6 linked regions of the Homo sapiens genome follow. The protein of the gene in region 4 purifies or fractionates together with the protein of the main gene of each other region. This does not show direct contact. Each region holds a gene or a part of one and is shown on either strand. Other genes may lie near its edges.

The links.
Region 1: the proteins of SLX4IP (region 4) and BLTP2 purify together in Homo sapiens (affinity purification with mass spectrometry, with the first as the bait; one large-scale study listed by BioGRID). This does not show direct contact.
Region 2: the proteins of SLX4IP (region 4) and MAP6 purify together in Homo sapiens (affinity purification with mass spectrometry, with the first as the bait; one large-scale study listed by BioGRID). This does not show direct contact.
Region 3: the proteins of SLX4IP (region 4) and ATG4B purify together in Homo sapiens (co-immunoprecipitation; one large-scale study listed by IntAct). This does not show direct contact.
Region 5: the proteins of SLX4IP (region 4) and HEPH purify together in Homo sapiens (affinity purification with mass spectrometry, with the first as the bait; one large-scale study listed by BioGRID). This does not show direct contact.
Region 6: the proteins of SLX4IP (region 4) and ZDHHC11B purify together in Homo sapiens (affinity purification with mass spectrometry, with the first as the bait; one large-scale study listed by BioGRID). This does not show direct contact.

The regions. Positions count from the first base shown.
Region 1 is NC_000017.11:28,631,659-28,635,158, forward strand, and holds part of BLTP2 (bridge-like lipid transfer protein family member 2 isoform 1 precursor), read right to left. Parts: coding exon 2,859-3,500; intron 2,429-2,858; coding exon 2,237-2,428; intron 2,094-2,236; coding exon 1,891-2,093; intron 1,744-1,890; coding exon 1,625-1,743; intron 1,505-1,624; coding exon 1,284-1,504; intron 582-1,283; coding exon 391-581; intron 262-390; coding exon 162-261; intron 24-161; coding exon 1-23. UniProt on the Homo sapiens protein: Tube-forming lipid transport protein which binds to phosphatidylinositols and affects phosphatidylinositol-4,5-bisphosphate (PtdIns-4,5-P2) distribution.
Region 2 is NC_000011.10:75,586,418-75,589,038, reverse strand, and holds the end of MAP6 (microtubule-associated protein 6), read left to right. Parts: intron 1-854; coding exon 855-1,980; 3' UTR 1,981-2,121; downstream 2,122-2,621. UniProt on the Homo sapiens protein: Involved in microtubule stabilization in many cell types, including neuronal cells. Specifically has microtubule cold stabilizing activity.
Region 3 is NC_000002.12:241,665,193-241,668,692, reverse strand, and holds part of ATG4B (cysteine protease ATG4B), read right to left. Parts: intron 2,049-3,500; coding exon 1,855-2,048; intron 551-1,854; coding exon 472-550; intron 154-471; coding exon 8-153; intron 1-7. UniProt on the Homo sapiens protein: Cysteine protease that plays a key role in autophagy by mediating both proteolytic activation and delipidation of ATG8 family proteins. Required for canonical autophagy (macroautophagy), non-canonical autophagy as well as for mitophagy.
Region 4 is NC_000020.11:10,433,958-10,438,104, forward strand, and holds the start of SLX4IP (protein SLX4IP), read left to right. Parts: upstream 1-1,347; 5' UTR 1,348-1,496; intron 1,497-4,147.
Region 5 is NC_000023.11:66,195,247-66,198,746, forward strand, and holds part of HEPH (hephaestin isoform a precursor), read left to right. Parts: intron 1-2,436; coding exon 2,437-2,648; intron 2,649-3,500. UniProt on the Homo sapiens protein: Plasma membrane ferroxidase that mediates the extracellular conversion of ferrous/Fe(2+) iron into its ferric/Fe(3+) form.
Region 6 is NC_000005.10:781,930-785,964, reverse strand, and holds the start of ZDHHC11B (probable palmitoyltransferase ZDHHC11B), read left to right. Parts: upstream 1-1,235; 5' UTR 1,236-1,297; exon of another isoform or gene 1,298-2,023; intron 2,024-4,035. UniProt on the Homo sapiens protein: Probable palmitoyltransferase that could catalyze the addition of palmitate onto various protein substrates and be involved in a variety of cellular processes. May play a role in cell proliferation.

The sequences.
Region 1 (3,500 bases), on a different chromosome or scaffold from region 4:
AAGGCGCCGCATCACTGTGCCTGCTGAGAAAAAGAGGCACACAGAGACCATGCTGACCAGTTCAGAGGATAGTGTAAGACAGAGATGGAGGAGGGGAATGGAACTGAGAAGGGAAAAACAAGGAACAGGATAGGAGAAATGAAAGGAGTCTTTCATTTTACCTTGAGGTATAAGCCGCTGAGTCCCCCGAGTGAAGACATGGCCCTGACTGCACTCAATCTGGATGCCCCGTTGCTGGGCAAATGAGGCCCAATAATGTACCTGGCAACAAGAGAGCATAACATTAACAAAGGATGGCATGAGAGGGATGATTAAGGGACTCAATATGAGAAACAAGAAAACTAGAAGCAGAATAAAGTGAAGATGTCAGCAGGGACATCAGTGCCTTACCTGCAGCTGGGGAAAGAGGGCTGTATAGGAAAGTTGCTTGTAGTGCTGACCAAGTTTCTTCTTGCTGGGTTTCAGGTTATTGAAGAGCTTTCCCCTGCAGATAGGCCTTGTGACACTTGTCCAAGTTGCCCAGAAGTTTTGCATCCAGCGCAGGGTACTACTATATAGCAGAATTCGGGGCTGGGATATTGCTGCAAAGAGAAAGACAGACATTTCCTAGTTATGGATGAAACACAGAGGTAAAGCTAAATCCTTCCCTTGCTGCAGGTTGTAGAGGTTTAAAAATCCAAAATCCAAACAGCACCTAGCCTCACATTCAGCATCCCCAACTCCCTCTTCTTTCAAGGATCTAAGCTCTCTGCTTTCCCCTACTGCTATGGTCTAAATGTTTGCATCTCCCCAAAATTCATGCTGAAATACCCCTAAGGTAATGATGTTAAGAGGTGGGCCTCTGGGAGGTCACTAGATCATGACGGTGGAGCCTTCATGAATAGGATTAGTGCCCTTTTAAAAGTGGTCCAAGGGAGCTCACTGACTCCTTCCACCATATTAGGACACAGCAAAAAGGCACCATCTATGAGGAATGGGCCCTCACTGACACTGAATCTATCAGCTCTTTTTGATCTTCGACTTTCAAGCCTCCAGAACTGTGAGAGATAAACGCTTGTTGTTTATAAGCTACCAAACTTGTGGTATTACTGTTATAGCAGCCAAAAAGGACTAAGACACCAACCCTTTCCCCTGCCAAAAAACAAAAAAAAAGGTCCTAACCTAGATTCTCCCTTGCCCTTCTCCCCTCCCCTCCCCTCCCCAGAGGGTCAAGCTAAAGTCCCCAGCATCCATGCCCGTCCTCCCAAGCCCTTCCTCCCCACTGCCCCAGGCCCAAGCCTCACTTCCACTGTGCCGAGTCAGATCCATCTTGATGGAGAGATTGAGGTTCTCCGAGCGAAAGGCCCGGTAGGAGTCATGAAGCTGGCCCAAGGGCACCTCAGGCAGGAACTCTGGGGCCCGCAGAGTGACACTATGGTGATCATGGGGGTTCCCATGGCACAGCCACTGCAGGTCCAGTGTCATGCAGAGGTCAGGCAGGTGAAGGAAGCAGCAGTCGTCATACCTGCCTCACAATGGAACCCCAGCCCTCAGTGCCCTGGTCACTCACTTCCCCTTGGCTCTTCCCCCTCCCTCCAACCTGAGCCCCTCATCCCATGGAGGACCCTCCCTTCACTCCACTCACTTAGAGGCTGTTCTCACGTTGATATCCAAGTCACCCTTGAACACAAACTGACCAGGTTTCCAATGAAAAGACAGGTGGCTCCACTCCCAGTGCATATTTTCAGTTGTGTTGTATGGATCCTATGACCACCCCCGAGAATTTGGTGAGATATAGGTAAGAAAACCATCCTCATCTCCCAAATCAGCACCTGTCTCTCTTCCCACATGTGCTATACAGACCTCAACCATACCATCCTGATAGGATAAAAGTATCATGACACCCCTCACCTCAGTGGCCAGCTGGTGCAGGTTCGCCTGTTCAATGTCCATGTGCCAGTCTCCATGGAACAGAAGACGGCTCTTGTCCCACCAGGGCAAAGGTGGGCTGGGGTCAGCTGAGGGCTTGGTCAAGAGGTCCACACACTGGCCAATTAGTGTCCAGGCTGGATCCCAGCATGGGCCCCACACCACTGTGTACTGGAATATTTCCGCTGGGGTAGAGGAACAAAGGCTATAACTTGTTCACAACATTACCCCTCTCTTCCTCCTTCACTCCAGAAGGGTCTCAGCTCACCTCCCATTTCACCCATCACAAACGTCCCTCAGCCAAACCAACTGCCTCATCTCTACTCACAGTGAAAGTCATGGTAGAATTTGAGTGGGGGCATGTTCCTCTCCACTGCCACGTTACCCCACGGAAGCCCCAAGTGCAAGATCTGACGCCGACGGGAGCAAGGCTGACCACTCTGCTCGGTGCCCACAAGTCGACCCATTAGCCGCCAGTCACGGATCTCAAACAGGTACCGTGGATAGTCCCTGATCCGAACTGTTACCAGAGGAAGGGTACACACTGGCTACTCAGGGGCAGTCTGAGCACTCTCGGGCCTATCTTTTTCCTCACCACTATTTTACCCATCTATATTTACAAAGTCAATTGAGAGAACAAGGGCAGGCAGTTGACACAGCAAGCTGAAAAATGACAGTGACCCTGGAGCAGGTGGTTAAGGGCATAGCACTGAGATCCAAGAGACACAATAACCTTAAAGATGACTGTGTTAGCTTTCCCTTTATGTTAGCCAAGCAATTTCACGGTGAAATTCAGGAACAAAGAAAGGGAAGGGAAGCCCACCCATCCCACTCCACCCACCCAAAACGGCACAGTTCCCAATATAACCTAGTTCCTCTGAAATCACTGAGAGCTCCCCAGAGCTCAGCGGGCAAACACGGGGTCTGCAAATAAAGGAAACACTACTTACCCAGAAAGCTCTTGACATTGCACTTGAGCATTCGACACCACTGAATGACAAGATCTAATCCCTCAGGGGGAAAAGGGCTGCCTGGATCAAGCTCTTGAACCTGTTCTACCACATGCTCAGGACCATGGAAGGAGGCATCTGCCAGAGCTACCAGTTCTAGCCCTGCTAAGCTCCAAGTAAGCAGTGCCCGGCGCATGGGTGTGTTGCCATAGAGACGACGGGAACGCTGGATGTAGATTTCAATGTTTTTGCGTTCCAAAGAGGCATAGAGCTCCTCAATTTTGCGGGCAGGCAACAACTCCCCATGCTGCTTCCGAAGGGCGGCCACTTTAGCATCCAGTAGCTGTAGTCTTTTGGCACTCTCCTTACTTTCATCCTTCATCAGCTCGTAGTTATCATGAAGTTTCACCTCAAAAACATCATCCAAGAAAACCCATGAGAAGTGCTCAACCTTTAAGAGTAGATCAGGTGGGAGTGGGACAGGGCTTGGAGAGGCCCAAGCACGAGTCCCTTGATGTAGTCCCTTCAGCCACTTCTGAACTCCCACAGCCTCATCTAGAGTTCGAGAAAAGTCATACTGATAAGGAAACTCCACCGAGACTGAGCCGAAAGAGAGGAGCCAAACACGGTTCCGGAGGGTCT
Region 2 (2,621 bases), on a different chromosome or scaffold from region 4:
TGGGGGTAGTGGGAGTGGTGCATGCAATCACAGGGCGCACTGTCTATGGAGAATTTAAAGCAATAAAGCTAAAAGCTGCCTGTAGTCCAGCTATTCAGGAGGCTGAGGTGGGAGGATCACTTGAGGTCAGGAGCTGGAGAACAGCCTAGGTGACATAGTGAGGCCCCGTCTCTACAAAAACAAATAACAAAAAACTAATAGCTGGCCTGCTTTTTATTATCACTATATGCTGCTCATTCTATACAATGTCAGTGATAAAATACTTTTCCCCTTGCAGGAGAGGGAGAGAGGGGCATTCCCACTGCTTCCTTTCCTGGTATGCCATGGACCCCTTGCCCCTTCTTGCAGCCAGCACTTAACAAGGGGGTCAGGGAGTCAGGGAGGCAAAAGAACTTTGAAGGCCCTGAGAACAAGAAAAGAGCACCCTGGCCTGTGGGGGCATCTGGTGGGCAGCTGAGATGGGGCTCCCAGGATGGGCCCAACGATCCTAGAAGAAAAAGTAGGGACCTGGATGGAATGTGGGGTGGACGGGCTGCTGGGATGCCTACTGGATGACTCCGAGTCCAGCTACAGTACTGCCATTGTCACCAGCGTGCCACCCCCTGTGCCACGTGCAGGTTATAATCAATTGGCAAGCACATTGAATGACTGATTCCTGAGCCTTCACCTCACCCCCCTCCCTCACCCCCGCCCACATTCTGTACTAAGAACACAGAAATCATATTCTCCTGGCTCTCCAGCAAGAGCTGCCCGGCCCAGGCTCCACTAGGCCAAGACTTATTAGGCAATCTGTACTCTGCCCTGTCCCTGCCTGAGCTCTACTCTCACAGTGATCACCTCTCTCTCCTTTGCAGGAGCCTGGCTCAACCCGTCAGTGATTCAAGTAAGACTCAAGGTCCTGTAGCCACAGAGCCAGACAAGGATCAAGGTTCTGTGGTCCCAGGCCTTCTGAAAGGTCAAGGTCCTATGGTGCAAGAGCCTCTGAAGAAGCAAGGTTCTGTGGTCCCAGGGCCTCCAAAGGATCTAGGTCCCATGATCCCATTACCAGTCAAGGATCAAGATCACACGGTCCCTGAGCCTTTAAAGAATGAAAGCCCTGTTATCTCAGCACCAGTCAAGGACCAAGGTCCCTCGGTCCCAGTTCCTCCAAAGAATCAAAGTCCTATGGTTCCAGCAAAAGTTAAGGATCAAGGCTCTGTGGTACCAGAGTCTCTAAAGGATCAAGGTCCTAGGATTCCTGAGCCTGTGAAGAATCAAGCTCCTATGGTCCCAGCACCTGTCAAGGATGAAGGTCCCATGGTCTCAGCATCTGTCAAGGATCAAGGTCCCATGGTCTCAGCACCTGTCAAGGATCAAGGTCCCATAGTCCCAGCACCTGTCAAGGGTGAAGGTCCCATAGTCCCAGCACCTGTCAAGGATGAAGGTCCCATGGTCTCAGCACCTATCAAGGATCAAGATCCCATGGTCCCAGAGCATCCGAAGGATGAAAGTGCCATGGCCACAGCACCCATAAAGAATCAAGGTTCCATGGTCTCTGAGCCTGTAAAGAATCAAGGTTTAGTGGTCTCAGGGCCAGTCAAGGATCAAGATGTTGTAGTCCCAGAGCATGCAAAGGTTCACGATTCTGCAGTTGTGGCACCTGTAAAGAATCAAGGTCCTGTGGTCCCCGAGTCCGTGAAGAATCAAGACCCCATTCTCCCAGTACTAGTTAAGGATCAAGGCCCCACAGTCCTACAGCCTCCAAAGAATCAAGGTCGTATAGTCCCTGAACCTCTGAAGAATCAAGTTCCTATAGTCCCAGTGCCTCTGAAGGATCAAGATCCTCTGGTGCCAGTACCAGCAAAGGACCAAGGTCCTGCAGTCCCTGAACCTCTGAAGACTCAAGGTCCCAGGGACCCTCAGCTACCTACTGTCTCACCTCTACCCCGAGTCATGATCCCAACTGCCCCCCATACGGAATACATTGAGAGCTCCCCTTGACACTCACCCCTTGACACACCAATGAAGGAGCTGACAGTGAGAGTGCTCCCCTCCCAGGGGCAGTGAAGACACATATTTAATCTGCATGAAACATGTACAGTAGTCTTGCTGGAATCTAATAAAAATGGTCCCTCTGGCTCAGCAATGTTTCTCTCTGTCTCTGTTGGGCAGGGGTGCATACATGTGTATAGGTGGGCCTGTCAGGCTCTGCATTCACCCGTCTGGACCAGAGGGGTCTGAGAAGCACCAGTTCCTGTGAGTTGTCAGCATGAGATGGGAGTGGGTAGGCGATGCTAGATGGAAACAGGACCCCATCACGGAGGTGGGCAGGATAAGGCAAGGGTCAGATACCATGACAGCCTCACAAGAGGTGCCAAATCCCAGCAGGCTGAGCCCTGGGTAGCTGAGTTGAAGCCTGCAGATGAAACAGGAGCAGGGACCCACCTGGCACAGGGGAATTCTGGATGACAGTTGTTTGCCAAGAGCTCAGCCTTAAAGCTCATCCAGGGGTCAAACTTCTTGAGGAAACCAGGCTCTGATCATAAGTCTCAGGACACTGTATAACCTAACACCTGCTAATCCTCATTCAATATCCATGACAGCTCAACTGAGAGCTTCTAAAGAATATACCTAGAGCCAGG
Region 3 (3,500 bases), on a different chromosome or scaffold from region 4:
CACGTACCACAGCGATGGACGGGTCAAGCTCCGCGATGCTCATGCGGCACGGCGGGTGCTGGCAGTGGAAGCTCTCGTCCGGGATGAAGCAGCCATCAGTGGGCTCCACGGCTGGCTGCGTGGTGTGGGGGTCCAGGTAGATGAGCTCCTCACCTGGGAGGATGAGGCAGGTGGGCAGGTGGGTGGCCGAGCCGGCAGAGGAAAGGGACAGAGGAGGCCGCATTTCAGACCCACTGCACCCACATCACACTGAGAAGCAGTGGGCAGGAGGTGGGGAGGGAGCCGAGGGCACCAGACCATCAGGGAAAGGGGCACACAGGAGGCCGCCCGCGACCAGGCTGAAAATGAACCCCAGGGCATGCTGCTTTTCCACCAGTGGCCTCAAGTGGTCACCTGGGGTGTGGTACCTGCTCATGGAATGCCCTTAAAAGGCCCAGGCCCACAGGGACACGGTGGGAACCCTGGACTCACCAACGTAGCCGATGAAGTAGTGGGCGCTGTTGGGCTTCCCTCCGATGACGCCCAGGGACTGGGGCATCATGAAGCAGTGCTGTGGAGGGGCGGGGGACTGAGCACAGGTCCCAGGTGGGAGCAGACGGTCCCCCCACCCACTGCCATAGGGGGCCCAAGGGCCTGCTGAGGCCCAACTGGGTGACACAAGAGGGGACAGGAGGGGACATGGTACCAAAGAGCTTACTGTCCAGGAAAGACCACAGGACATCCCACAGGCACAAGAAACCCAATCTGCAGGCTCAGCTCAGGGAAGCTTCATGTCAGAGGTGGGCTTTGGGGAGGCCGGGAGTGAGGGGGCCTGGCAGGAGATGTGAGCAGGGGTGCGGGAGGTGGCCCTGCTGAGTGCTTTGACCTGACAGGGCAGAAGCGATGGAGACGGGGCCTATGTGTGGGGGCAGCTGAGACCCCACAGGATGGGCAGAAGGCTGGACGGAGGGGCCAAGTTCAGACAACTGAATAATTTTAACAGGAAGCCACATTTCAGTTCCATACAAATGTGACTCCTTGGTCTAAAATTTGAGTTACCTGAAGAAAGGATGGTTTTCCCTTCTGCTTGCTTTTTTTTTTTTTTTATTTGAGATGGAGTCTCACTCTGTCACCCAGGATGGAGTGCAATGGCATGATCTCGGGTCACTGCAAGCTCCGCCTCCTGGGTTCAAGAGATTCTCCTGCCTCAGCCTCCTGTGTAGCTGGGACTACAGGCGCGCACCACCATGCCCGGCTAATTTTTATATTTTTAGTAGAGACAGGGTTTCACCATGTTGGCCAGGCTGGTCTCAGACTCCTGACCTCGTGATCTGCCCGCTTTGCCCTCCCAAAGTGCTGGGATTACAGTCATGAGCCACCGCTCCCCGCCCCCTTTTGCTTTCATGACATGGGGGAGCCTGTGGCTGGAGCTCCTCACACAGCCCTGCCCATCCCCAGGCCCTGCCCACACGTCCCTTCCTCACAGGCCAACCCACCCTCCGAAGGGACCTCAGGCCAAGAGGGCTGTGGGGGAGTGGGGTGGGCATGCCTGGGGCACAGTGGAGACCCGGGAGGGGGCGGGGCTCCCCGTCAGGCCGAGGAGTGGCACCTGGTTCCAAGGACCCCCTGCAAGCGCCTCATGCTTTCATCCTCGACACTCGCCTTGACACTTGCAGAACGAAAGCAGCACGTGCCTACTGATGGACGTGCCTCACGCCCACTCACCCCTTGGGCAACGGTGTAAACCAGGGTTGTTTACCCCTCCCCCGAGAGCCGGCTGCACAAATGGCCACGTGACGACGATGCGCTGAAAGTGACTAAGAACTGGGAGAAGGGGACGGGGACTCAGGGCAAGCGCCGCACGGCAGGACCCACCTTCAGCGTCTCCACGTAGGCCTCGTTGATGTCCGTGAGCCCCAGGCGCAGGGGAATGAGAAGTACCAGGGGTCTCCATGGCGACGGCCTGTTGGTGACCTCAGCTCCGGCAGGGAATCCGTTGCAGTGCCGGTCGGAATCTGCAGGAAACGCAGTGGCGCCTGCACAGGGAACGCTGGTCCTGCACAACCTTCCTAGAAAGGGAGACATGCTTTCACTAACCAAGCAGACCTGTGCAAAAGTGCTCCCACAACAAGCAAGCAAATGATGACTGTGTAACAGAAAAAGGGCGGTACAAAGCCAGGTGCTTACAGTGAAATTCAAACTTGGAAAATATAGAAAAGCGTAAGAAAATTTTTTCATAATCTTGCCACCCAGAGAAAAAAGAAATAGTTTCTATGCATACTTAATTCAAGAGTTTTATTGTGAAATAAAGCACACACACGAAACAGTGCAAGAAAAAGCCACGTGCACTTGAGAGGAAAATCACAGAAGTACCCACGCAGCCTGCCAGCCTGGCTAGTGCCAGCACAGCCAGAACCCGCTCCCTCCGGGCCTCCTCAGCAACGCCTTTCCTCGCTTCCACCCCTTCTGCCTACACACACCCGTGAGTCAATGGTCCGGAGGACACATCAACCGGAGGGTGCGGTGATGGGAGAAGACACTCCGGGAGCATGGAGCATGCCCGGCGTCTAGATCGAGGTTTCTCAACACCACTCCCCACTCAGAGGAGCCAGGCTGATTCCAGGGCCAGGCAGGGAATGTTCAGAGGTGCCTGCAGCATCTGCTTAACCCAGAACATAAGGGAGGGCTCAAAACATAAACGAAAAACGCCAGAACACGGCAAAAGACACCACCAGACTGAGGTGGCCACCGGCCAAAGGTGGAACCGTCAAGCATCAAAAAGATGGACAGTGACAGGTGACAGTGACAGTGACAGGTGACAGTGACTGACAGGTGACAGACAGGTGACAGGTAGCACACTGCACACTAAGTGATGGGAGAAAAGGCGGCTCTTCTCAGAACGCCAACCAATAAACGTGAAAGGAAAGGACAGGCTAGAAAAACCACCATTATCAGGCAGGAGTCACACAGCTCACCAGGACATGCTCAGTGTCACCACTGGATTATTCATTAATTACAAAGGAAAAAAGACACCATCTCCGGGGATCTGACATAGTGTCCCACTGCAGGCCCCGGATGGGAGAGCAGAGGACACTGCCACCCAGAGGCTACTCTCAGCCACAGGCTCAACCCAAGCCCAACTGTGAGGAAGCAGACAAATCCAGCGTGTGGGATGGTCAGCTGACCTGAACTCGTCAAAAATGCCACAAAGCAGCAACAACCACAACAAAGAGGCAGAACCTTCTCAATTAAAGACTAGAAAGACATCACAACTATATACACACAGCACCGGACCCTCAACCAGGAACACAAATCAGCGGCACGGGTTGTTCCCTGGACAGCAAGGGGCCAAGACGGACCCTGGTGAGTCGTGGCGTCACCTCTTTTGTGGTGATGAGGCTGTGTGGCTCTCAGGAACACTCTCATTCGTAGGAGGCTTGCTCATAAAAACCAAGCGTGTCAAAACACAATTGGTGGATCTAGGTGGAGGGTTTGTGGCCATGACTCACTGAACTTTTTTG
Region 4 (4,147 bases):
CAGCCTCCTCCTTGTCCCCGCCCTCAAATATCCTTCAGTGAGGACACCGGTGACCTTTGGGGGTGGAGAGGGAGGCGCCTACAAGCCCCTTCCCCTCTCTTCGGCCGGACACAAAGCGGGCTTTTCCACCTAGAGTCCCAGCGCTCTCACCTGCGCACCAGCCGTCGCGCCGCCCCAGGCCGCCACCGCCAGAGGCCCCAGAAACAGATCTCAAGCAGCCGCTGCTGCCGCGGATCCCGACAACCTTCGCGTCGCGCGAGGGCACGGAGCACGCGCAGCTCTGCGGTCGACGCCGGGCCGCCCCCACTCCGCTTCTCCGGGTTTTCCGTGAAGCTCCAGCCAACAGCGGCCGTCACCGGAAAAAACGGGGAGCGAAGTTTATTCAGCGTATATTCCAGCAAATTGTTGAAACTGAAATTTTAAAAGAACGCATAAAATTTAAATAACATATCAAAATGGCACAGCTTCTGCCTTTTGGTGAGCGCTTGACAATGATTTATTGAATGAAAGAAAGAAATAGTCCACTGCGCTCTGCTCTCTGTCCTGACATGACCAATTACAAAGCGCTTGGATTTGTCGCTCAGCGCCAGTATCCCGCCTCTCTGTGCGGTTGTCTGGAAAATCAGGATTTTTACTCTCCCGTAACTCCCGGGATCGGGTTTGGAAAACGGACATGCGCCGTGAGAGCTAGTTGCCTTCTACTAAAGCATCCGCCCTCAGTCCTTCCTGAGGGCTTACAGGGAAGTGCGGAGTTTCGCAGCTCGTACTCTTCACAGATTAGATAATTCACCCGGCATTTCCCCATCCTGCTTCTGGGTTCCAGGACAAAACTTTTATTCTCTTTTAACATTAAAAAACATATAGGAAGTTATGTTCAAACATGGCTATTTTTATTAAAATTTATCCGGCACTGTGAAAGCTACCTTTCCTTTCTCACAATCTTTCGCACCGAATATATGTTCCATTCTTGAGCTAGTCATTTTCCAATGTTAAGAAAACACACCACAGAAAAGCGTTTTTTTTTCTCTCGGTCAGTTCAACTGCCTAGCACCGTGAGTTACCATGATACGTTATTTGCTAATGAGAGTCATTGGGGTCCCAGCCTTTAAAAATAGCCTGCGTCCGGCGCCATTTTTGTTTTGGGCCCACTTTGAAAGCCGCGATATTCTGAACAGAGGCCATTTTTCTTTTGGGCAGATTCCACGGGCCATCGAAGTGTTTCGCTGCCATCTTAAATCCTGGCTGTGGCCTCAATCCTGCAGCGAAGCTGCCCAGATCATTTTGTGTTTGGGCGGCGGCTGAGTTCCCAAACGCGCGCGGAGACCCTGGGAAGGAGGAAGTAAGCGCGAAAGTGCTTCCCTTAAGCTTCTGAAGGTTGGCTGCAGTTCCGGCTACCTGTGTAGTCCGAGTTTCCACAGCCAGGTACTACTCCGCCAGTGACCCTGGACAGTAACAAAACATATAAAGCCCGAGCCCAAACCCCGCCACCATCATAGGTAAGCACATGGACCTCTGACAACCTCAGATGTTCCTTCAAGTGAACTGAACTGTTTGCCCATCTCCTCCCTCCTGGTTTTTGGCTTTGATTTTTTGAGACTTTTCCGAATCCTTCTCCCTGTACTTCCACCTTTCTTCATTGTTTTCAAAAAGCCAAAAAGTTGCTAAACATCAGGATGCCATGAGCATGGGCATTACGGTGGAGATATTATTCAGGAAAGTTAACTGTCTTTGCACAAAGGGAATGCAGTAGATGGGCCAGGTATTTGTATCAAATCATGGCTACCTGCATCCAGCAGTACAAATACCTCCCCCTTCCCAGACATTTTTGGAGATGTGAGGTAAATACAGATTGCGTTTGTATATACTTCCCATTCATTCATTTATTCATTGCATTTCTTGAGTACCTAATTTGTGCTAGGCCATAAGGATTCAGGAGTTAGCTAAAAAAAATCCATTAACTCATGGAGCCTACATTTTATCACCTTGACATCTACTAGGTTGAGACAAATAACAGTATTTTATGGTTCTTAGCACTGCTAGACTGTATAAACAAGTATTTGCTTTCTCCTTCCCCTGAACTATTTTTTTTTATTTTTAGTTTTTAATTTTTTTGGCCGGGTGTAGGAATTAATGGTATTGACACTTACTTCTTGGATCCTAGACATAACGATATTTGTAAGCCAGTTGGCTAGCGTTAAAACTAATATTCCAGTTACTTAGGGCCTTGTTGCTCCAAGTTCATTTCACCTACCACCAGCATCAGCATCCCTGGGAGCTTGTTAGAATTACACTTCATGACTCTCACCCCAGAGCTGCTGAATCAGAATCTTCCTCAAGAAGTGTACCTTAAAGTTCAAGGAACATTGATTCAGGGCATGGGCTAAAGATACAGCCCTTTCTTTCTTTCTTTTTTTTTTTAGATGGAGTCTCGCTCTGTTGCCCAGGTTGGAGTGCAGTGGCGCGATCTTGGCTCACTGCCATCTCCGCCCCCCGGGTTCAAGCAATTCTCCTGCCTCAGCGTTCCCAGTAGCTGGGATTACAGGCGCGCGCCACCACCCCCGGCTAATTTTTGTATTTTTAGTAGAGACAGGGTTCGCCATGTTGGCCGGGTTGTTCTCGAACTCCTGACCTCAGGTGATCCACCCGCCTTGGCCTCCAAAGTCCTGGGATCACAGGCCTGAGACATCACGCCCGGCCTGGCCCATTCTTTGTTCAACCCGTGCTTCTTAACTAGATTCACAGTGTATTATCAATTTATTGCATGTTCTAAATGCAATGGATATTTGACAGGTTTTTTTCTGTGCTTTTAGTTCATTGACTTGATGTTAGGGCGTCAATTTAGCTTTCCAAAAAGTTGAAAAGAGATTTTGTCATCCCAATATACTTATATGTAATTTCTGTTATAACATCTGAAATGTAGGGTTTTCTCTGTAAGTCTTAGCATCCAATTTACCACTGGTTTGCGTTTTTTTTTTAAAAGTTGTTTACTGTGCTTCTTGCTTTCTCATATCTTGTATGCATATTTGTACTTTTAATTTGTTAAAAGTTGAACTCAAAAGTTTGCATGTGGACAGCAGTTCAATACTGACTTGGAAAACCTTGGGCCTTGGTTTACCAAAGCTTTTTGTGGCACCTTGCTTTCTTCTGTCTTCCCATTTTATTTTACTTCTTTTATTTTTATTTTTTGAGACAGGGTATAACCCTGTTGCCCAGGCTGAAGTGCAGTGGTGGGATCATAGCTCACTGTAACCTCCAACTCTTGGGCTCAAGCGATCCTTCTGCCTTGGTCTGTCAAAGTGCAGGAAAGCAGGCATGAGCGACTGCACCCAGCTGCCTTCTGTCTTTCTTTAATGAGAAGACTAAATCAAGAGTTCTCAGCCTTGGCTGCACGTAACAATCACCTGGGAGCTTTAAAAACAGACTCCAGCCCTGTATCTGCAGAGATTGAGACCCTCTGGATGAAATTAAAGAGCCAGTAAGGAGTATGAGAAAACAGAAACAACTTTTACGTTTTATGTTGCTATGTTAGATTTTCTCTCCCTTATGGTGTTACTTAAAATAATCGGGATTTTGAAAACCATGAAAAGATCTGGATTAAGAATGTAAGGAACCAGCTTCCCAGTAACTGGTCAACTTGCCAATTATTTGCTCTGTGTCCTAAGAAAGTTGTCCAGCCTTTCTGCTTCTCCTCCCTCCATCTATTAATTGGGAAAAGAAAATAAAGCCACTGTTGTTTTTTATTTAGTTTCATGTGGTGTTGCCAATTGTAGTGAATGTTTATATTCTGTGAGTGTGAGAAAGAAAAGTATTTTACAAGTACAATATTCATTGCTTCTAGTATTAACATACCTCATATTGTGTGTGGCAGTAGAACATGATGGGTTAGGAAATTAACTCTAGAGCTAGACTCCCTGGGTTCAAATTCTAGCTCCTCTACTAATCAGCTTTGTGACCTTGATCAGATAACTTATCCCTTCACTACCTCAGTTTCCTCATCTGTAAGATAGGGTTGATGTGAACGTTAGATAAATTCATACAAGAAAAATGCTTGTCATAGTGCCCGGCACATAGTCACAGCCATGTAAATATTAATTAACTATTGTTAAATTTTATGATAATTAAATTTCTGGGCTTTAAGGTTTTGTTT
Region 5 (3,500 bases), on a different chromosome or scaffold from region 4:
CTAGTAAATGTGGGCTCTAGGTGGTACCATGTGTCTCTAGAAAACAAATAAATGGGAGATGGAGAGGATGAAGTAGGCAGAATTATTTGCCATATGTGGATGTTGTTGAATGAATGAATAATATAATAGTAAAACAGAGCTGGGCTTCAATAATAAGAGAAAATTTCTTTTAAATATATTTAAATATATCCTAATTTTAAAAATAAGTTTATTATAGAACTCTGAAAAGCAGACAATTACAAAGTAAATAAGCATCATTTATAGATTGTCATATAAATTTTGATATACCTTTAAATATTTTTATGTGCTTATACAAGTCTATATATAGAGATATGTGATCATATGGTTTGTACAGTTTTGCATCCTACTATTCTCAGTTACCATTGTATTGTGTTTGTTTTTCTATGCCATTAAAATGCTACAAACATTTTAATGACTATAAAACACTTTATCTCAAGGATTTGTCGAAATTTATTTACTTTTTCCTCTATTGCTTGGACATGTAGGTTTTTTTCAGTATTTTTGAATATTGTAAGTCAGGTTGCAATGAATGAATGCATATATCCTAGCTTGCATTTTGGATTACTGTATCAGGAGAGAATCTTAGAAGTGAGAGTATTGTGTAATTGATTTTTTACTTTATCTAAGAATATTAATGCATGCTAATTCTAGCCAAACTATAAAAGAAAAACTGAAAGCATAAAGAGCAAAGTTGCAGACAAATCTAGAATGAACATTCTATAAGGCAACTGGTCTAGTCTCTTCAAGAAGTCAATACCATCAATAAGGGGATTAGAGACATAACAAATGAAATGTGCAAATTTTGATTGATTCTGCTTGTAAAAATAGCTTTAGGAGACATTTTGGAGATAATTGCAAAATTCTTGATATAGACTGGATATTAGATGTTATTAGGGAATTTTCTTAGGTGGAATAATGGCATTATAGCGACATAGGAGATGCGTGCTAATATCATGATGTTTGTATTCTACTTCCAAGTGATTCAACAAAAGCAAACAAACAAAAACTGTATGTATGTGTGTGTAGATGTATATACACATAGAGTAGATAAATAAAGATGGCAAAATGTTAGCAATAGACTCTAGGTGATAGGTTGATCATTGCACTATTTTTTAAAGTTTTCTGTATATTTGAAAATTTGAAAAGTAAGAAATAATGAATGAATAAGGAAAGGTAGGTTAAAACCATCCTAAATTATAGCCCCTTGTTATAAGCTATACTAGAAATATCCTTCCATATGTTTCTTTGAATGTTTTTATAAACCTTTCTTCAGAATATATTTTTAAGTTGGGGAATTGCTATATCAGAGGCTATGTACATTAAAATTTTTGGTACCTACACCCAAATTACTCTCTGGAAAGATTTGCAGTCCTATCAGTTTAGAGTTCCATTAGCAGTACCTGAGGAGGACTCCTTTTCTTACAACCTCATCAGCACTGGGGAAATCTTTTTAATCTTGTCAAAATGACAGTCTTGTAGGCAAACGACAGCATCAACAAAACTCACTGTTGTTTTGATTTACATTTGTTTGATTATTTCATGTTGAACATTCAGTATTTATTGCATATATTATTCTACTTGTGCATATGAACCTTTTAAAGAAATAGCTTTGTCTACATTTTGGTGTACTTTTTTTTTTTCAAATTTTGTCTATATTTTTTTTCAAGTGTTATTCCCTTTTACATTTACACTCTTTATAGGTGAGTGAGTAGGGTAGGTGCCATCTAAACCACTTCTTACCATCATGCATTATTACAATTTGTAAAATCTTTGCTAAATTAATTTGTAAAAAAGTTATCTAGCTATTTTCAATTGTACTTCTTTGATTACTGATGGCATGAAAATTTGAAAAAGGTCTGTGCATTGCTTGACCATGTCTTGTGTCCATTTTAGAAATTACAGCCTTAGTGTTTTATATATATATGTATATATATACATACATACATAACATATACACACCCACATGTACATAATACATATTAAAAGAAAAAAATTAAATAATCAGAGCTGTTCAAAGATGACATGGACTATAATGGCAGGTAGTGAGTCCCCCATCACTGGAGAGTTTTAAGCAGAAGTAGGGATGTAAGAGCAGATTAATGTATGTTTTCAAGTGAGAGATGTTCCAAATAAGTCTTAAAGTCCATTTTTAGTCCCAAAGTCCTATGATTTTGGAAAACTGAAACATAGGGAAGATTAAATTGCTGCATTTCATATAGCAAGTAATGGAAGAACGAGAAAATAAACTCATCTCTTGACTCCTTGACCAGAGTTCTCCTCATTATTCAATATTCCATGTTGCTGCTACTGCTGCTCCAAAATGCCTTTGTAGTTCATAATCTTTATTTCACTGTTTGGAGCTGATGATTCTCATTCTAGTCAATCTAAGTAATGAGTCCCATATTTTCACTACAGGCTCATCTTACCCTGGCTTGGTTGCCAAGCCCTTTGAGAAAGTAACATACCGCTGGACAGTCCCCCCTCATGCCGGTCCCACTGCTCAGGATCCTGCTTGTCTCACTTGGATGTACTTCTCTGCTGCAGATCCCATAAGAGACACAAATTCTGGCCTGGTGGGCCCGCTGCTGGTGTGCAGGGCTGGTGCCTTGGGTGCAGATGGCAAGCAGGTATTGTCAGGGTTATCTGGCTGGAAAGCCTGCTGGGAGAAGGATGAAGCTGGGTTGCTGGATAGGAGTTAAGCATGGAACTGGGTTCTAAAGTTTAGGGAATAGAAGAAAAATAATCAAGCTGGTCCATCAGAAATTAATAGTTGGTGACCTCATACTATCTTGCATGTTATTTTTTGTACTGACAAATATATATCTTCCTTAGCCTTGCAGATAATTCATGATATCCTTTCATCATCTTCTTCTTTCCTCCCTCCTTCCCTCCCTCCCTCTCTCTCCCTTTCCCTCTCCCCCTCTCCCTTTCCCTCTCCCTCACCTCGGTGGCCCCTAAACCTTGCTCCTGATCCATAAATCTGCTTTAATATTTGCTTGTCTTCTTTTGTATTCAGCCCACAATTTCTAGCTGTGTAACATTGGGTGAGCTACTTAACTTCTCTTTGACTCCGTTTCCTCATTTGTAAAAATGGGATAACGATGGAAGAAGACACCTTGGATTTCTGTGAAGATTAATTAAAATAACCCATATAAAGTGCCTAGCACAGTGTCTGGCACATATTAAGCACTCAGTAAATGTTAGTGGTAACAATAATTATCACTGATATTACTTATCTTTTATTTTCTAGTTTCCCCCCAAGACCCTCCCCTGCTTTTCTAGCCACCTCCCCTCATTCCTCTCCCCAGGTGATTACCATCTCTCTTCTTTTACACTCTATACCTCTTATTTCTTATCCTATGCTCCTTCCCTGCCCACTTTCATACAGTCTTCCCTGTCAGGCTTGTACTTTTATTGTGACATTCTTCTCTCATCTGCAATTTGAGGTTACCTAAGGAAAAACTGCTGCAGCTCTGGAT
Region 6 (4,035 bases), on a different chromosome or scaffold from region 4:
CAGAAGCCCATCTCTGGGCAGCACTGAGTGGAAGGAGAAACCACAGGAGAGGAGAGGAAGTGTGGGGCGCGGGACCACCGTGGGGTGGGTGGGGGCCAAGCCGCCGGGCTGTGAGGCCTCAGCACCCCCTGCCCAGCACCCAGCACCCCAACTTCCCCTTCTGCCTTTGCGGATTCCAGGGCCTGCTGGACACCTGGGGCAGGGACAGAGCCGGGACTGGGGGAGGAGCTCAGCTGCACTAGAGTCCGGCTGGAAGAGTCCCGCTGAAAGTCACCAGAGGCACCCCTTCCTCCTGGGGGGCTGCGCCTCGGCCTCCTCCAGGGCAGGTGCCCCTGTGCCCCTGAAGTCCCAGCACCCAGCACCACAGAACCGCCCTGTCGTCTCGGCCCCGGAACCTTGTGGGGAGCCAACTCCTGCGGAGGGCCCGGCAGCCCCGGGCGGAATGAGCCCCCTCCGCAAAGCCTGTCTGGGGAGCGGGGGAGGGGCGGCAGGTGCCCGGAGAAAGGCGAGATTGGAAGAGCGGCCGGGATGGTGGCGCTGCACACGGGCGACCTGCAGGGAGAACGGAAGCTGAGGCCGGGGTCAGGGGTGCGCGCTCCGCTCCTCCACTCCTGCGTGAAGGGCGGCCCACTCCCGAGCAGCTGCGCTGGGCGCCCGGCACGGACCCGTCTCCCTGCTCAGGTCGATCCCCGGCCGCGCTGTCCCCACCTGGAAGCCCAGTCCCCTGGGTGCGCCCCGCCTTGGGGTCCGAGCACCCTCACAGCCCGGCCCTGCCGCTTCCCTGCACCGTCTGCGGCTCCTTAAAGAACTGGGCGCGGTCGGGGCTCGCCCCGCACTGTCCTCGAGGCCCCGCCGCCAACCCACCCCACCCCAGGAGGCCGCGGCCGCGCTCATCCATCCCCCGCCGCACCGTCAACGCGCGTCCTGCGGGGCGCAGAGATCGGGGTCCGGTCGTCCCCGGGGGGCCCCAGAGACAGGTGAGGGGCCTCGCTGCCACTGCCCAGCGGTTCCCACGGCCCGCAGGTCCGCCGCGCCCTGCGCTGAGCGGATACCTGGCGGCCGGCGGAGCCTCAGCGGAGCCGGTCTTGTAAGGCTGAGGTCTCAGTGCGCCCGCGCATGCTCCGGGCCTGGTGGGGCGGCGGGGGCGGGGCTGCCAATGAACACGAGGGGCGGGCGCGGGACGCTGGGGGCGGGGCTGGGGGCGGGGCGGGGCGGCAGGGGGAGCGCTGCGCTGAGCACTTGGTCGCGCGCGGCCGGGTCGCGGGGGAGCCTCCGCTGCAGTTGCTGCGTCTCCAAGGTAAGCGGGCGCGGGGCTCGGTCCTGCGGGCGCGGCGCGGGGGGCACCCGGGGGCGGAGACTGGGCCCGTCAGCCCCAGCAGCCACCTGCGCCGCAGCCCCTGCCCCCCGCGCTCCCCCGAGCCACATTCCCGGGCCGCCCTGCGCGTCCCTGAGCCCCCGGATTGGGATGCCCGGAGTTCGGCGCTGCGGGCTCGGTGCGAGGACGCGACGGGGAGGCTTTGCAAAGGCCGCGAGCGGGGGTCACCGTCGGCCGCGCCAGGGACAGGTCTGTCACTTTCTCCGGGCCCTGTGCCTGGCGCTTTGGCCTTTCTTCGCGGCCACGGACGCCCCTGCAGCCCTTCCCTCCAGACCCTGCCCAGCCCGGGGCTGGAACCGTTTCCCTATTCCCAGGCGTAGGGGGCCGCCGGTGTGAGGCGTGGGAAATTAGGGCGTGGAGGGCTGGAATGAAGCCACTGCCCGCAGCACGTTTTGAGATCCCTGGCCACAGAAACGGCCCAGAATGAGCGGGTCTCGGGGTCCTGACACCACCGCGTCCTGGCAGGTGGGGCTGTCAGACCGCCCCCCGCAGAGCCTCCAGCTGCCCCGGGCCTTGGCTACTGTCCGCGGGCCTGTGGCGATGGAGAGGCGCTGCCGGGACACCTTCCCGCACCCCTGGGAGCAGCGCCCGAGGATCTGAGGAGCCCTTTATTCTGCGGTTTCGGTTACGTAAACGGAGCCGAGGGAGGTGAGAAGCCTGTCCCTCCCGGGCAGTGGCGGGGCTGCTGTTTTGATAAGCGTTTAGGGGGGCTGCTGTCTTGATGGGGCTTGGGGGGCTGCTGTTTTGATGGGGTTTGGGAGGCTGCTGTTTTGATGGGGTTTAGGGGGCTGCTGTTTTGATGGGGTTTGGGGGCTGCTGTTTTGATGGGTATTTGGGGGCTGCTGTTTTGATGGGGGTTGGGGGCTGCTGTTTTGATGGGGGTTTGGGCGCTGCTGTTTTGATAGGGGTTTGGGGGCTGCTGTTTTGATGGGGGTTGGGGGCTATTGTTTTGATGGGGGTTGGGGGGCTGCTGTTTTGATGGGGTGTTGCGTTCCCTCTCAGTGTCACCGCTGATCCACCTGGCATGTTTATTGGCTCTTCTGCGTGCAGGGCCCCTGGGGGACCGATAGAGGACTGGGCCCCTCCGCCCACCCCGGCCACCCCTCCCCGCCTGACTTCTCAGGGGGAGAGGTCTCCCCCCACGCCCAGCCAGCCCCTGCCCCTGGGAGGTGACCCAGCTCCCTGTGGCCTGGGACTAGGAGATGGGGCTGGACCAAGGCCGGGAAGGGGCAGGAAGTGGAGGGGAGTGAGGCAGCTGCAGCCTGATGCCGGCGCCTTGAACTGGGCTCTCGCGCCTGTCAGCCGCTCGGTGCCAGCGCCTCCCCACCACGTGATCCTCGGAGGGCCTGTGGGGGAGGGGCGGGCTCCCGGAGCGGCTGCAGAAGGCGAGCTCCAGGAGGGTGTGTGCGTTTTCCCGGGAGGGGTCTGCAGCTTTCATGGTTTCTAAAGGGATCTCTGATTCAGAAAGGCGCCGGCATGAACTCGCTTTGCATCTTCACAAAACATGAAGTCATGGGGATTGGACCGCGTGTGCGTGGAGGAAGCTCCGCTGGTCACTGGCTGCGTTTTAATCTTACAGCTGCGGTTGGTCTATCTTCCCGAATTCCCTGAAGTTGCAATAAATGTTTTAGCGATTATACGAGGTTATAAATGCTCGTTGTGGAAATGAGCATAGAATGCTCACAGAAATGGTCAACAGGGGCTTCCTTTTGACCCCCTACCCTAATTTGCAAGCCTCACACTGGCAGTGGCTGCCCTAGGCCTGGGAATCGGTAAACAGGGTTCGTGCACCGGGCTGGGCAGGGCCCGGAGGGAGGGGCCGCAGGGGGCTTCCGTGGGCACAAAGGCCAAAGCGCCACACGCAGGGCTCAGGAGAACTTCCTGAAGAAAATTAGGATCACCCATCGCAGATGGAGACTGGGGAGCTCTCTGGAGAGTCAGGCAGTCTGTTCCCTCCCAGGCCTGTGGGAGCCACCCCCTGCAGAGGACGCAGAGAATTAAAAGCTTCCTCGGGAGAGGCCGTGCCAGCAGAGAGCCGAGTCTATTTATAGCTGTTGGTGAGACAGGGGGAGTGTGTGAGAGGGATGCCATCTGGGGCTCTTGGGGCCCCCAGGCCAGTGCTGGTCAGCGCCCTGCAGTACCTGGCCCAGCCTGGTGCCCTCAGGCAGAAGCGCCTTCGGGAAAACACTCTGGGTGAGGAGAGTCGCTCAATGCCTCCGCCTGGGCTGGGGGAGCCAGAAGGCTATGCCCAGGAGGGTTGTGGCCGGGTGTCTAGTCCATCTGAGCCCACAAACCCTCAGCCAGGAGCCAGGATCAGGCAGCAGAATCTACACACGCCTAGTTCCTACTGCTCGAGCAAAAGGTGTTTCCTGGGAAGGAAGGGGTGGAGCTGCCTGGGTCAGGCCCAGCCACATCTGGGGCTCAGGCCTTGTCCCCAGCATCCACGAGCCAAACCCCAAGCTGCCCTGCGTGGATCCTCCTCCTAGGGAGACCAGCTTCTTCTTGGTGTGTGTGTGTTTGGGGTTGCCACAGGGCCATAACCCACTGCATCCCCCTGATAAGATCTTCCACCCAGGGCAGCCCCCACCCAGGGCAGCCCCCACCCAGTTGATCCCCCACCCAGATGATCCTCCACCCAGATGATCCCCCACCCAGATGAT